2 separate regions of the Homo sapiens genome follow, and region 2 is linked to region 1. Evidence: fine-mapped expression QTL. Tissue or cell type: whole blood. Region 1 holds a variant in brackets; the other region holds the start of a gene. All regions are shown on one strand. Distances are from middle to middle.

Evidence for each region. PIP is the estimated chance that this variant, and not a neighbour inherited with it, causes the effect.
Region 2: it holds the start of RIOX2, and the variant in region 1 is fine-mapped to the expression of RIOX2 in whole blood (TOPMed, PIP above 0.99).

What each region holds. Positions count from the first base shown.
Region 1 is chr3:97,806,711-97,814,822 of GRCh38, reverse strand. All of the region lies in intron 2 of LOC101929298 (a long non-coding RNA gene), which reads left to right. Among named protein-coding and RNA genes, the nearest start is that of CRYBG3, 11 kb to the left of the region's middle. The variant CTG/G (reference allele first, on the strand shown) is at 4,918.
Region 2 is chr3:97,968,781-97,976,892 of GRCh38, reverse strand. It overlaps RIOX2 (ribosomal oxygenase 2), which reads left to right and starts at 4,462. Exons shown (of 10, transcript NM_153182.4): 1 at 4,462-4,512. It overlaps LOC124909398 (a long non-coding RNA gene), which reads right to left and starts at 4,240. Exons shown (of 2, transcript XR_007095976.1): 1 at 3,083-4,240; 2 at 1,771-2,027. RefSeq lists a silencer at 4,278-4,717 and an enhancer at 4,988-5,247.

The DNA.
Region 1 (8,112 bases):
TCAGGAAGGTAGTCAGAGAAATAACAAATACATACATACATATTTTCTGAAAAGTCTACTAATCACTCTACATTTCAGAAAAGTCTATAAGTCATTCTACATTTCAAGAAAAAAAAGAAAAGAAAAAGAAAACTTCTGAAATAAAGATCCAGGTAGAATCTAAATCATTGACCCTGAATTTATTCCTTTTGTGTTAGCTGCTTTGAACATGATTAGGGAAGTTTGTGGGAGGAATATATATTGAGAAACAACAACAACAAGTTATATGTTTCAAAGAAAGAAACATACAACTCAGCAACAGTTATAAGATTACAAAACAGTGTGATAAATATGAACAGGCATGTCTCCTTTCATAGCACTTTATTGTGCTTTGCAGGTAGTGTGCTTTTTACAAATTGAAAGTTTGAGGCAACCTCTTGTTGAGCAAGTCTATCAGCCCCATTTTTCCAACAGCATGTGCTGATTTCCTGTCTCTGTGACACATTTTGGAGATTCTTTGGAGAATAAGTAATAATTCAACTTATAATAATTATAATAATTCATCATTATTATATCTGTTATGGTGATCTGGAACAGAGGTCTTTGATATTACAGTTGTAATTGTTTTGGGGTGCCATAAACCACATCCATATAATGTAGTGGACCTAATCGATAAATATATGTGTTCTGACTACTCCGTGGACCTACCGTTACCCTGTCTCTCTCCTTCTCCTTGGTCTTTCACCTTGGGCCTTCCTATTCCCTGAGACACAACAATATTGAAATTAGGCCAATTAATAACCCTGCAATGGCCTCTAAGGTTTCAAGTAAAAGAAACACTTGTGTATCTCTCACTTTAAATCAAAAGCTAGAAATGATTAAGCTTAGTGAGGAAAACACGTCAAAAGCTAAAACAGGGCAAATGCTAGGCCTTCTGTGCCAGACAGTGTTAGCCATGTTGTGAATGCAAGGACAAACTTGAGGGAAATTAAAAGTGTTACTCCAGTGACTACATAAATGAAAAGAAAGTGAACCAACCTTATTGCTGATACGGAAAAAGTTTTAATAGTCTTGATAGAAGCCACAACATCCCCTTAGGCCAAATCCTAATTCCCGGCAAAGCCCTAACTCTCTTCAATTCTATGATGGCTGAGAGAGATAAGCTGGAAAAGAAAAGTTGGAAGCTAGTAGAGGTTGGTTCATGAGGTTTACGGAAAGAAGCCATCTCCGTAACATCATAGTGGAAGGTGAAGCAGCAAATGTTGATGTAGAAGCTGCAGCAAGTTATCAGAAAATCTAGCAAAGATCATTCATGAAGGTGGCTACACTAACAACAGATTCTTAATGTAGATGAAACAGCCCTATATTGGAAGAAGATGCCATGCAGGACTTTTGTTACTGAGAGGAGAAGTTAATGTCCAGCTTCAAAGTCTCAAAGGATGGGCTGATTCTCAGGGACTAATCAAGCTGGTGACTTTAAGTGGATGCCAATGCTCATTTACCATTCCGAAAATATTAGGGCCTTTAAAAATTATGTTAAATCTACTCAGCTTATGCTATAGAAATGGAACAACAAAGCCTGGATAACAACACATTTGTTTACAGCATGGTTTACCGAATATTTCAAGCCCATTGTTGATACTTACTGCTCAGGAAAAAAAAAAATTCCTTTCAGAATTAGTCACTCATGAGCTCTGATGGAGATGTACAAGATGAATGTTGTTTACATGCCTGCTAATACAACACCTATTGTGCAGCCCATGGATCAAGTAGTAACTTCAACTTTCTAGTCTTATTTTTTAAGAAATACATTGTATAAGGCCAGAGCTGCCATAGATAGTGATTCTTCTGAGGGATCCGGGCAATGTCCATTGAAAATCTTCTGGAAAGGATTCCAGATGCCATTAAGAACATTCATGAGGCCGGGCACAGTGGCTCACGCCTGTAATACCATCACTTTGGGAGGCCGAGGCAGGCGGATCACGAGGTCAGGAGATCGAGACCATCCTGGCCAACATGGTGAAACCCGATCTCTACTAAAAAAAAAAAAAAAAATACAAATATTAGCTGGGCATGGTGGCACACGCCTGTAGTCCCAGCTACTCAGGAGACTGAGGCAGGAGAATCACTTGAACCCAGGAGGTGGAGGTTGCAGTGAGCTGAGATCATGCCACTGCACTCCAGCCTGGCAACAGAGCGAGACTCCGTCTCGAAAAAACAAAAAACAAACAAACAAACAAACAAACAAAAAAAAAATTCATGATTCCTGTGAGAAGGCCAAAATATCAACATTAACAGGAGTTTGGAAGAGATTGATTCCAATCCTCATGGATGACATTGACGGGTTCAAGACTTCAGTGGAGGATGTAGCTGCAGATGTGCTGGAAATAGTAAGAGAACTAGAATTAGACATAGACCTTGAAGACGTGACTAAGTGGTTACAGTCTCACCAGAAAACTTGAATGGATGAAGAGTTGCTCCTGATGAGCAAAGAAAGTAGGTACTTACTAATAACCGTATATCTAATTTAGGACTAAAATCAGGTGTATGCAAGAATCAAAACAATCTGACAGCTGTGTGGCATTCTGATATGAATTGCTTTTCTCATAGCTAAAAGTTGTTAGGTTGAAAGTATTACTATCATGAAATCCTAAAAGGAACTTGGTCCATCTTTATTATTAAGAGTTAAAGTGTTTATTTTAATTGGTAGCAGTACTGTATTTTCTAATATATCTACAACTTCACTCTTGGTGAAGATGCTGTGAACGTTGTTGAAATGACAACAAAGGATTTCAAATATTGCATAAACTTAGTTGTTAAAATAGGGGCACAGTTTGAGAGGATTGATGCCAGTTTTGAAAGAAGTTCTACTGTGGGTAAAATGCTGTTAAACAGCATCACATACTACAGGGAAATATTTTGTGAAAGGAAGAGTCAGTCAATGTGGCAAACTTTGTCGTTGTCTTCTTTTAAGAAATTGCCACAGCCACCTCACCCTTTTGCAACCACCACCCTGACCAGTCATCAGCCATCAACATGAAGGCAAGACCTTCTACTATTATAGCAAAAAGATTAGAGTTAGCTGCTGTCTCAGATAATAATTAACATTTTTAAGCAATAAAGTCTTTTAAAATTAAGACATGTACATCATGGTTTTAGACATAATGCTATTGCATACTTAATATACTATAGTATGAACATAATTTTTGAATGCACTAGGAAGCCAAAAAGTTTATCTGACTTGCTTTACTGCTATATTCATTTTATTGTGCTGGTCAGGAACTGAACCCGTAATATCTCTGAAGTTATTCCTATACTGGGAAAAGGGAGGAAGAAATGCCGAATCATATGATTTGGGCAGGCTGTGCCTGGGGTCCTGGGTGGATTTCACAAATCACAGCTCTAGAAGCATGGATGGAAAACTTGCAACCAGAACCCAGTTGAAACACTATTTAACAGATTTTGAATCTATTGAAACGTTTATATTAGGAATATTACACTAGTCAAAAAGCAGTATAAAAGATCAGGAGTGCAATAGTAGGCCAAAAAAAGAGATAATTTTTGCTTGCCTTCTGATTTGGTGAGGAAATATGGCAGTGAGTGAGTGCTACTACATTGTGAATCATCAAATACTATGTGTAATACAAGAACATACAAGGGCTTTGGAATGTTAATATGAAACTACCTTTAAGTGAACTCTTTGCTGCATTATCTTGACCTTCTTTAAAATAATTGTATAATTAAAAAGTAAATGACAATGACAAGGTATGAGAAATAGGCAGATGGAGAAACTGCTGCACTGATCCTAATGTGACCTACATAATTTAATTTATAGCTGCCAATTATTGCTTGAGACAGGTTAGACGAGTGAATCAAGCTGGAGAAGTCTTACTAATAACCATGTATCTAATTTAGGACTAAAATCAAGTGTATACAAGAATCAAAACAATCTGACAGCTGTGTGGCATTCTTACATGAACTGCTTTTCTCATAGCTATTACCTGGAATTCACTCAAAAGTTGGCAGGTTGAAAGCATTACTATTATGAAATCCCAAAAGGCACTTGGTCCATCTTTATTATTAAGAGTTAAAGTGTTTATTTTAATTGGTAGCAGTACTGTATTTTCTAATATAGCTACAACTTTCAATAATTACTTAATTTATATAATAAGTATACATACATTTCCCATATTGGTTGCAATTATCAATCTATTCAGGCAGTTTATTTTTATGAGTGATACCATTTCAGGCATTCTTTTTTGAACATACTCATCTACCTTTTATTCTAATTCTTCAATATGTAAAATTCAATTTTCTCTACATTGTTATTTCATATAAATTTTTTTCTAAATATTTTAATTTTGAAAATATTTCAAACTTATTGAAAAATCACAATAGTATTAAGAACTTCTTTTTATTTCCTGAATCATTTGAAATTATGTTGTCAAAATGAAGTCCTGAATACTTTGATGTGTAACTCTTACAAACATGACTATTCTCCTAAAATCCTAACTGCAATTCCACTCTCAAAATCAAGAAACTAATGTTGACATAGTCTACCACCTTATCTGCAGACTCCATTTAAGTTTTGACAATTATCTCATTAATGTTCTTTTTAGCAAAGTGATCCAGTCCAGAATCACATACCGCATTTAGTTGTTATGTCACTTTCGTCTCCTTTACTCGGTAAAAATTCCTCAGTCTTTCATGACTGGGACTTTCATGACTGGGACATTTTTTTACTCTTACAGGCCACATTTTGGTGGAAGCAGGATCTTTTTATTTGGAAATGCCTGGTGTTTTCTTATGGTTGGATTCAGGCTGTATATTTTTGGCAATATCCCAAAAGTAATGCTATGTTATCATTGTGTCAGGTGGTACCTAATTCTTTTTTCTTTCTTTTTCTTTCTTTTCTTTCTCTTTCTTTCTTTTCTTTCT[CTG/G]TTTCTTTCCTTTCTTTTTTTCTTTTTCTTTCTCTCTCTCTTTCTTCCACCCACCTTCCTTCTTTCCTTCCTTCCTCCTTCCTTCCTTCCATCCTTCTTCCTTTTCCTTCTATAATGCTCTGTTCTCATTGTGTCAGGTGGTACATGATCTTCCTTCTTCCCTCCCTCCCTCCCTCTCTTCCCTCCCTCCCTCCCTCCCTCCCTCACTCCCTTCCTTCCTTCCTTCCTTCCTTCCCCTTCTTTCTTTTCTTTCTTTCTGACAGCGTCTCACTCTATTGCACAGGCTGAAGTGCAGTGGTGTGATCTCTGCTCACTGTACCTTAGACCTCCCAGGCTCAAGCGATCCTCTCACCTCAGCCTCCTGAGTAGCTGGGACTATAGGCATGCACCACCCAGCTCACTAATTTTTGGAATCTTTGTAGAGATGGGGTCTCACTATGTTTCCCAGGCTGGCCTCAAACTCCTAGGCTCAAGTGATCCTCCTGCTTCAACCTCCCAAAGTGTTGGGATTACGGGCGTCTGCCACCACACCAAGCTAAGGTACACGATTTCAATTTGTCCCATCACAGATAATAACTTGGATCACTTGATTAAGGTGATGTCTGCAAGCTCCCTTAATTGTATGCTAGCTATTTTTTTTCCTCTCTGTAATTAGTATTTTGTGGAGAAATAATTTGAAGCTATATAAATATCCCATTCCTTGACAACATTTCATTATTATTTTTAGCATCCATTGATGTTTCTAGACTGAATAAATTATTACAATTATTGTCAAATGGCGATTTTCTCATTCCAACATTCTACATTTATTTGTAGGTGTTCTAATGTTATCTCCCCATTAGTCATTTATTCACTTATTTGTATCATATAGATATATAAATTCATATTTCATTCAATGAGTTATATAGTCCATTACTATCTTTATTCATTTTGATGTTCAAAATGTCGCAGGTGTAGCCAGTTAATGCCCCTTCAAACTGTCTTTGTGTCCTTTTGCTATGTCCACATAATTATTTGAGCATTTTTTAACTTTCTGGAAAAACAAAATGTTCCAGGCTCATTCTGTATTTTTTCTGCTCCATTATGGAAGTAGCCATTTTCCCAAAGAGCCCTACTTCTTTTTAGTGGAGAATATAACCAAGATACCTACATGTGGGTGCCAGGTGTTCTCATTGCTGTTGGAGTCACTGCTCTTAGGCACATACACAGGTATATACACACAAACAGCATCTTTATCTCTGTATCTATATCTCTCTCTTTCTACCCATTGAAATTCATGTGCTCATACCGATACCTCCAACTGTAATACAACAATCCTTCTAGTTTTCTTTCCACACCTGTAACTCTCTTCTCCTACACTCTGGAGGATGACTCCCATTATTGTCAATATATTATTAGATTCTTTCCTTGATAAATGTTACTAATCATCTGTTACCACCACCACCTCCCTGGACGTCGGGTGTAGAAGCCCTCTTTACCCTTCTCAAGCTCCAACATCCCATGCCAGGCAATGTACATGCCTTCATCATCCTACAGGTGTTCCAACAACTGGTGCTAGGCTGCTCCTGCTGCTCTATCATCACCTCCCTACAAAGATGCGTAACTTGGTTGGCGCCACATACCATTTTGCATTCTCCACCAGCATTGTGTGAGAATTCCAATGATTTCATGTTCTTGCCAACACAAGGTATTACCAGTTTTAAAAACTGAAGCTATTTTAGTAGGTGTATAATGGTAATAAATCATAGTTTTTATTAGCATCTCCCTCATGATTAATGATGTTAAGCATCTTTTCCTGTATTGATTGACCATATTCTTTTGTGAGGTATCTACTCAAGTGGTTTGCTCATATTTTGTTGTTGTTGGCTTCTTTCTATTGATATATAATAGGTCTTTATATATTATGCAAGTTCTTTGTCAGATATATATATTGTGGATTTTTTTCCTGTTATGTAGTTTGTTTTCCATTTTTAAAAATTGTACTGTTTGTCTTACACTTCAAAAGAAGTTGTAGTTGTTGGGTGTAGTGTTCTACACATATGAGTTGGGTCTATTTGGCTGACTGATTCAGATCATCTATGTCTACTGTTTTTTTTGTTTTGTTTTTTTTTTTGTCTAGTTATTTTACCAATTGCTCAGTAAGAGGTATTTAGATCTCCTACTGTAATGGTGAAATTGTTTATTTCTCCCTTTATCTGTCAATTTCTGCTTTATGTATTCTGAAACTTTGTTACTGGATGCACACACATCTGTGATGAATGATAATAAAATGTCTTTATCGCAGTTAATTCTTTTTGTTTTGAAGTCTATTTTATCTTATATTAATATATGCACTCAAACCTTCTTATACTTAATGCTTCCGTAATCTTTTTTAATACATTTACTTACAACATGCCTGCATCTTTATATGTTAAATGCATTTCTTGCAGAGAGCAGATAGTTATGCTTTTCAAAAATTCATTCTGCTTATTTCTAACTTTAATTGGAGAATTTAATCCAATTAAATGTATTCCAAGTATTGATATAATGGTATTAAGGACTGTTTCTTCCTTCTGTGTTTTGTTCCTTTGTCCCCCCTTTCCTTATTACGTGGATTAATTGAATATTTCTTAAATTCTATTTTAATGTATTGGCTTTTTAATATTTCTTTTCCATGTTTTTAAATAGTTGCTCTAGGGATTACAATATGCATCTTTAATTTATACTGTCTATTAGAGTTAATATTGTATCAATTCTTGTAAAATGTAGAAGTTTTACAACTGTTTGGGTCCTTTATCACCCTCACCATCCTTTTTTATTACAGTCATCATATGTTATTTGTATATCTACATACATTATTAGCCCCACACAAATATGTTATTCTTTTACTTAAACATTCACATGTATTTTATGGGTACTTTTTAAAAAGCCTTCTACATTTACTCATATATTTATCATTTCATTACTTCTTGAAAATTAGACTTTTCCTTTGGTGTAATTTCCCTCCACCCTGCAGAATTTTTTCTTGGTTTCATATCTTAGAATTCTGGATTAACTTTCTTATTTTTCTTTCAACACTTTAAAAAATACTGTACTACTGAATTTGGCAGGGTTTCTAATAAAAATCAACTTTTTTATATCAGTTTGTATAGAAACTTATTTGTATCACTTTTACTCTATAAATAAGGTTTTCTTCCCTCTGGATGTTTTTGAT
Region 2 (8,112 bases), 160 kb before region 1:
CATCTCTGTAAGGGAAAGTCATTGGAAAATCCTGAGGCATATTTTCACCTGCAAGTGCTGGGTTGCTGGAGAAAGGAGGTCTGCAGAATCATTTAAGAAAAGTCATGCAGCCTAACACCAACTTTCCTATAGGCACAGGCTGTAAAAGAAATTGGACTCTAAGCAAGAAAAGAAAATAGGAATGCTTACCCAATTCAATTTTGTAAACAGAGTAACTACTCTGTGAAGAACTCTGTTGCAGTTCTCAGAATTAAAGAAGCACATTTCTTGCTCCCAAGGAGTTTAAATCATAGTTTTATAAATATGCAAAATATAATTCCAAACGGTGATGGTATGCTTGTTATCAAGTTAAGTACGTTGAGTTCTATGAGCTGTATCGTAACTACTATAGTCTTGAAAGACCTCGGCCTGGGTCATTGTTAAACAAATTTGACTTTTCTGAAGGTACTAAGACACCAAGATTATCCCATGGTGATATGACATCAATTTGAAGGTACTCTGCTTGATGAATTGTGTAAATTAAGTGAAGTATGCATGTATAAAAGGCCCAACTGCATTTAATTCATTCCATGGAATCATGTTCAAGATGTCATATGGGATTTAACAGTAATGCCTCTCACACTCAATAGCATTTTACAGTTTTAAAACTCTTTTGCTTACTCCACCTCACCTGAAACTCACAGCATCTTTCCGAGTTAGGTGAAATTAACCACTTTTGGAGAAACATAAACAGAGGTCCAAAGAATATTACTTGATAGGCAGTATGGGTGCTATGGTCTGAATGTTTGTCCCCACCCTGGATTCATATACTGAAACAGAATCACCAATGTGATTGGAAGGTGGGGCCTTTGGGAGTAGATTATGTCACGCGGGTAAAGCCTTATAAATGGGATTATAAAGAGGACCCACAGAATTGCCTTCCCACTTCTACCACGTGAGGATGCAGCTAGAAGGTGTCCTCTGTGAACCAGAGAACAAGCCTCCAAAACTGTGAGAAGTCCATTTTTGTTGCTTATAAGCCACCCAGTCTTAGATATTTTCTTATAGCAGCCCAAATGAAAAAAATGGACTATCAAATGATGTATTTTTGAGCAAGTTCCTTAACCTTGATGTGTCTGTTTCCTTATATTAAAAAGTTAGCCCAATATAGTGGTATAAATATTAAAGTCATATACTAGAAAGACATGGTTTAGATATTTTCTGGACCAAAGTGAATACAAACACATAGGGGGCAGTACTCACATAGTTTAAAGCAATGTGTGTTTCCTGGAATCGTATGACACAGTAGCATTATAAAATAAAGCTTTACAACAAAAATACAAATATTAATCATTTTATAAGTTCTTCAATGTTTATAGACTGAAAGGTAATTCCAATCAGACTGATTCTTCTTCTAATGCCCTTTGAAAATTGGAGCACAGACCCTTAAGCCTATGGAATTTGAGTGCCAATAGGGATATCACAGTACATCTGGTGCAATCTTACTTTATAAATGAGGAAAGTGAATGTTAGCAAAGAGAGTTTTCCAAATTCATATACCTGGCCCCTCCAGAGTTAGATCTAATAACCATAAAAAGTACATTTACACACCACCATTTTTAGATTTTTTTGCACCCAGCATCATTGTGACTGGAGGTAGGAGTAGGACAGGGTTGCACTTTTGCAGCCTGATGCCCAGGCTGGACAGGTGCACAGCCACAATGAGGTGGCTAAAAACCAAAAGCTCTACAGGAAGAAGAGCCTAGGAGACCACAGAAGAGGAAGACAAACTTGGCTCTAAAAAGAGTCTTTTAATAAAGCAATCCAAACGGTGTGAACGTCAAGCACCTCTGCAGAAATGTAACTTATTTTACAAGGCTCATGGACAAGTCTGTTTCAGGGTTTATGGCCGAGACATGAAGGGAATTCTCTTCTTTCTCCTGTCTCCTTGGCATCTTGTTCCTCAGTTACAGAGGAGGAGCGCTAGTCTGTTGATTAGAAATCTGGAGGCTTCTAGACTTTTCCGGACAGATCTTGAGAGCTGCCATCTACAACATTGTTTTCATGAGAAAATTAATTACAGAAACAAAATAACTGACTTTTAAATGAACCTATGGTGGGGACTGGATAGCAGTCTGCATCTTGTCCTCTGGAAGAACTTTTCCAAAAAAAAAAAAAATACCAGAAACAATACATGTAGGAAGGCCATATATTCTAGAAGCCTCCCAGGCAAGGTTGCAGACCATTCTCCACTCCCATCCCATGCCACCCTTACTTCCTCACCTCCTCTTCCTCCTCTCAGGCAAGGTTGCAAGCCATTCTCCACTCCCATACCATCCCACCACACCCTTACTTCCTCCCCTACCTCCTTCCCTCCCTCCCCCTTCCTCCCTCCCTCCCCGCCCCTTCCTTCTTTCCTTCCTTTAGACGGAATTTCGCTCTTGTCACCCAAGCACAAACTAACTTTCCTTCTCTTTTTCTTTTTCTTTTCCGAAACAGAGTTTTGCTCTTGTTGCCCAAGCTGGAGTGCAGTGGTGCAATCTCAGCTCACTGCAACCCCGCCTCCCTGGTTCAACCAATTCTCCTGCCTCAGCCTCCTGAGTAGCTGGGATTACAGGCAGGCACCACCATGCTTGAGTAATTTTTTTGTATTTTTGTTAGAGACGGGGGTTTCACCATGTTGGCCAGGGTGGTCTTGAACTCCTGACCTCGGGTGATCCACCGGCGTCAGCCTCCCAAAGTCCTGGGATTATAGGCGTGAGCTACCGCACCTGGCCCCTTCTCCTTTTCTTCACAGGAATGATGGGCACTGTTTAGGTCTGAAAATGGAACTATCATGACTTTTTTGCTTGCTATGCTAAGAAATCGGAATTATAATGAAAAAAATCAGAGAGAACATACTGATATACTAATTTTGCATTAGAGGAACTCCTACACAAGATGTATGATTTCCCCCTGCAAAGCTGACTTCCATATGTACTTTTGTTCTGTTAGACATCCTGCGGCCATTTTATATGCTGAGAAAATGGTATTTTGTGTTGACATTATAACTTTTTTCTACAACCGTACTGCTTTTCCAAGTGGTGGACGTGTGAGAATTTACCTTTATCTGAATCCCGGGAACAGCAATATTATTCTATATTATCTTGAGTAGATGTCTTGCAGTCAAAATAAAGAGCGAAGTACATTACCAATATCATATCAACTAGAGATTTTTGCTGTTGACTATTCTTTTTTACCCTGTAAGGGCTAAATTTGATGTTACCCTCGAGTTTTTCCAACTGGAACCTGCCAGGAAACTTACTAGTTATACGAGTATTAGTAAAACGTGAAAAAGACCAACAGTTGACTGACTGGTTTGGCTCTAATCTTGTTTCTGCATCTTCCTAGCTGTGTGATCTTGTGCAAGTTAGTTAACCTCTCCTGACTCAGTTTCCTCAACTGTAAAATGGAGGTAATTGCAAGGTTGTAGTGAGGATGAAGTGAGGAGTATTTGAAACACCTAGCGTGGTGCCTTATAGCCAGGAAGAACTCAATTCAAGACTTGCTATTATTGTTAGTTTTAGACAAATACTAGACAAGGGTGTACTTTGTTCCCATTTGTTCATGTGCCACTTGATCCTTAGAAGCAGCCACTGGTCTCAGTCACCTTGACGGAACGAAATGTCGACTTCCTCTGGGTCCTCTGGCTGTCTACAGAGCAAAGAAAGGCACAGGCCCGCCACTGATTTCCCTGCTCCCTCATTTGTGCCTCCTGACTGGAACCAAATGTTCCAAAGCAGGGAGTGTTAGGCTGAAAGGACTCAGATAACTGCATTTCTTCTGTTTCTATAGCCATAGTCGCAACGAATTTCCAGTATCTTTTAAAACTAGGATTGACTCTCTCTCCCGGAGCGAGATGATATAAATGACACTCGGCTTGTACAAATCAGCATTGTGTAGCCACACAGCCCATAAGAAAGCCATGGGAGAACCCGGACCACCAACTCCCTAAACTTGCACCGCTGGTATTCCTCTTCAGGCCTGCTTCTCTATTCATAAAAGGAACGGAGTTGCACCAAAACGCTCTCTCAAATCCTCTCCTGCCGCCCCAAGTTAAAAGAAAAAAAAGGAGAGCCGGGTGGGTGGCTCACACCTATAATCCAGCACTTTGGGAGGCCGAGGCAGGAGGATCGCTTGAGCCCGGGAGGTAAAGGTTGCAGTGAGCCAAGATCGCTACCACTGCACTCCAGCCTGGGCGAGAGTGAGACCTTGTCTCACATACCATAAAAAAAAAAAAAAAAAAAAAAAAAAAAAAAAAAAGAGGAAAAAAAAGGCCATTTATTTCCTTCCATATGGACTAAAGAAACGCCCGGGCGTGAACGCGGAACACCGCCGGGTAGCCAGGCCTCCGGGCTGCCACCACTTGCGGGCCGGCGTGGCGGGGCGGGGCGGGGGCTGGAGCACGGCCCGGAGCGTGCCCACGCTGCCCCGCCTCCAGCCGCTGCGCCGCAACGCAGTGGGCTCGCGGCCGCGAGCAACAGGCCGTGCCGGGTGAGTGGGGCGCTCTCGTGGGCATCCCAGCGCCGGGGCAGGCCGGGTAGTGCCCGATCCCGCGGGGCGCGCGCTGCTGCTTTAGGCACCCGGGCTCGGGTGCGGGTCTGGGAGACCTGTCGGTCGGCGAGAAGCCTCGGTGGCCGGCGCTGTGGTTGCGGGACCTGGGACGCGCTCCCAGGCGTCCCACCTCCCCGGAGACTGGGGCAGGGTGGGTGGGGCCCGGATCTAGGGGTAGGGTCGCGGAAGCCTTGGTTACAGAGAGTCGCACACGTGGCCTGCTAATGGTCGCGACACCGGTGACGAGCGCACGGAAAGTTTGGAGGCTTAGCAAGGAGGGTGGTGCCGGCCTCCGCCCGGTGGTGGCAGAACTGCCTGTGCGAGCACGGCTTCCACGTGGGCTGCGCCGCCGGGCGTCATGTCGGGCCTAAGAGACACGCTCTACAGCTGTGAAATCTGAAGTTCAGGTGTGTGGGGAGAAGGGCAGCTGCATTACATCATATGCTTCCAATTCATTTACCAGCAAATAATTCCGCAACGATTGGCCGACAGCTGGGTTGTCCAACAGGTTACTGAGACCAGGTTATTCACTGTTTTCAGGAAGGATAGACTGGGAGGAAGAGGATCTGATTTCGCCACTCATTAGCTGTAAATCTGGTGCCTCGGGTTTCATGTCACTGGGCTCATCTTTGAGCAGAGGAACCTGATTTACTCAGCTTCTTCTGCTGGTACTGGTTTTTGCCTCCTGGACATCAAGCTTTGTAACCTCATGGTCACGAAAATACATTGAGGTATAGTCCGTTTCCTCTCTAAAATCAGACTAAAAAGATAACTGCTGATCACTCCTTTAGGTCAATAGGAGAACCAGTTTTCCCTCTGGATTGATTAACATATCTCTGAGCCAAAAAGAAATGTTTTAGATCAGTCTGGGCAACCTTGTTACAAGCAATATATAATTTCTGACAGCCGTGTGTTTAACTGAGCTGCGTTTGACTGTTGTCCTCCATTAGTGGACCTAAAATTCATCTAGAGAGCGTATTACGTTAATGCAGATTATGGGCCTCAGCCATCAGAAGTGGCAATCCAGTGGGCTTGATGAGGGCCCAGAAATTTGCATGCTAACAACCTTGCTGGTAACTCTGAACTACATTCTGTAAAACTGCCCAGGGGATGTAGAAATTCATACTTCCCTCCCCGATTTAGTAATAACTACTGATGTCTAAAGTGCCTTTTAGCTTTTACGATACTCTTGAATCCTGAAGTGACAGCTGCAATCAGAAAAATAATCCCCTCTGCACAGGCCATCTGTTTTTTCCGTAACTGTTTTGTGTAAGGCCTTTGTGGTTTGTCTCCAAAATTGTATACAGACAAAAGATGAAAATGTGAAAAATTCAGCAGACATTTCTTGAGGACCTCCTATGTACCACACCGTGCTTGTTTCCGGGGATATACAAATCCTTTCCTTCAAGAGCTTCCTCACGTCTTCATGTCCTCAAATATTATAGAAAAGGAGGTTAGGGTACCTTTAAAATATAGTGACTGTCTGTCTGTTGCCTATAGTATGGTTGTCAACATTGATTTTCTTATAGGGTTTATCTGTGGGGTAGTCACCAAAGTATGAACTGTAAATCTTTTAGTCTTTTTACATTTAATGCTTATAGTCAACTCAAATGGAAAACAATTGCTCTTCAAAAACTTTTCTGTGATTTTACAGAAATATTTACTCCTATTGGGGTGGTCTCTAAGGCTTATGGGCAAGGTTGTGTTGGCTGTACTATTCTAGACAAAGCATTGTCTTCTTTAATTACTATAGTATTGGATTCTAAGATATGTGTTTTACTTCTTGCTGTTTCCGAAATTATGATATGTACCTTAAGACTTTTGTATGTTTAATGTGGTAGGATGCTTCATCTATTCTCCCCTCTGCTCTAGAAAGCTGTTAAGAGGAATGGTTGTCTTACAGTATGAGTAGTGTGAGAATCAGAGAAATAATGTATTTGCCCAGAAACCTCTAAGCTTAGGCTCCAATTAACTGAGCCTCAAATCATTTCAACATGAACACAGAGAAACAAATGATGTAACTTTTGGCAGTATGGGTAGTGAAATTTATATTCTAAGGAAAGCATTTGTTATACAGTATTGGGGTTTGTTAGTGATTGTAGATGGGAAAGATTCTTTTAAGTGATTTTATTTTGGCTTAAGTGTTTTGCATTCTTTGATTAGCCACACTTTCTGGTGAATGTGCTTATACTGTATTCATATATTATGCTTAAAGAAAAGCTTTTCGTTTGCATCTTCCTCCTGCTCTCTCCCCTTAAATGAATTTTAAACTGACCAATTGTGAGAGATAAGAGATGTGTGGCTGAATATAAAATGACTCTATAGGGTGCCTTTAGTAATACAAACCTAATAAACCAATCTAAGTTTTTAAAAATTAAACGTGAGCAATGTGCTGTGGTCCCCAAGGCCATCTTTAGTTCAGCAATTTGCTAGGAGGACTCGGCTGATTTATTACAGGGAAAAGATATCAAGCACAGTCAGCAAAGGGAAGAGGCACATGGGTGAAGTTCTGGGGATACCAAGTGCAAGGCTCCAAGGGTCTTCGAGCGGTCACACTGGCTGTGCTCAGTTGCTCCAGCAACTAGTTGTGTCAACACTTGTGAAATGTTGCCAACCTGCGAAGCTTGTTAGAGACTCAGTGCCCAGGGCTTTTACTGGGGGCTTTTCACTTAGGCCACCCCTGCCTGGCACATACCAACGTTTCCAGACTCCCAGAGGAAAGCAGGTGTTGGTATAAACTGTAATGATTGTACATTTTAGGCATGGTGAGCCACTCCTATCAGTTAATGGTGGTGGAAACTCTCCCAAAATCTTAAGTTCTCAGACATCGGCCACAAGCTGCACTTTCAAAGGATAGCAGTCAGGCCTGCTATGGAACGTCTTCTGCATAAGCAGTACCCCTTCCCGAATCCATTTTTCTATCTCTTTGTATTTCTCCATCACTTGAGAGTTCCATGTACTAGCAATGCTGTGCCTTCCTGAAGCCTTAATTCTTTCCTGGAGAATTCAAGCTGGTCTGTTTCACTTAAAGGAAACATTTTCAGAAAATGTGTCTTACTGACCACATATCCTAAACACTAAAGTTTATTTTTTTTTTCTAAGCTTCAAGCTTTACCCCTCTCCTGTAGTATCAGTTTGTGTTAGTCTTCCACCATGTCCTGTGTTTCCTTATCAAAAGCACCTGGTCTTTTGAAGGAATGGAGCTGTTTAGAGGGTTTTATATTTTGACATTTCCTTTCTTAATTTGTTCAGTTTACATCTGGGTTTCAATCTAAAGTTTCTTTTATAAGTTGCAACACGTCACACAGTATGCAACACATCGTTCCAGGATGCTTACTTCCCAGGCCAGAACATTAATTCCACTTAGTCTACAGTGTAGCTGAAATACTGCTTAGTTATAATGACAAAAGAACAGAAAACAGTATTCTTGCAATTCTGATAACTCACCAAAGTAGGAAACTATACCATTTATAAATAACAAGTCTTTCAGAAATTTTGGTTTTTATAAGTACAGTGGTTCTTAACCTTGTCAGGAGATAG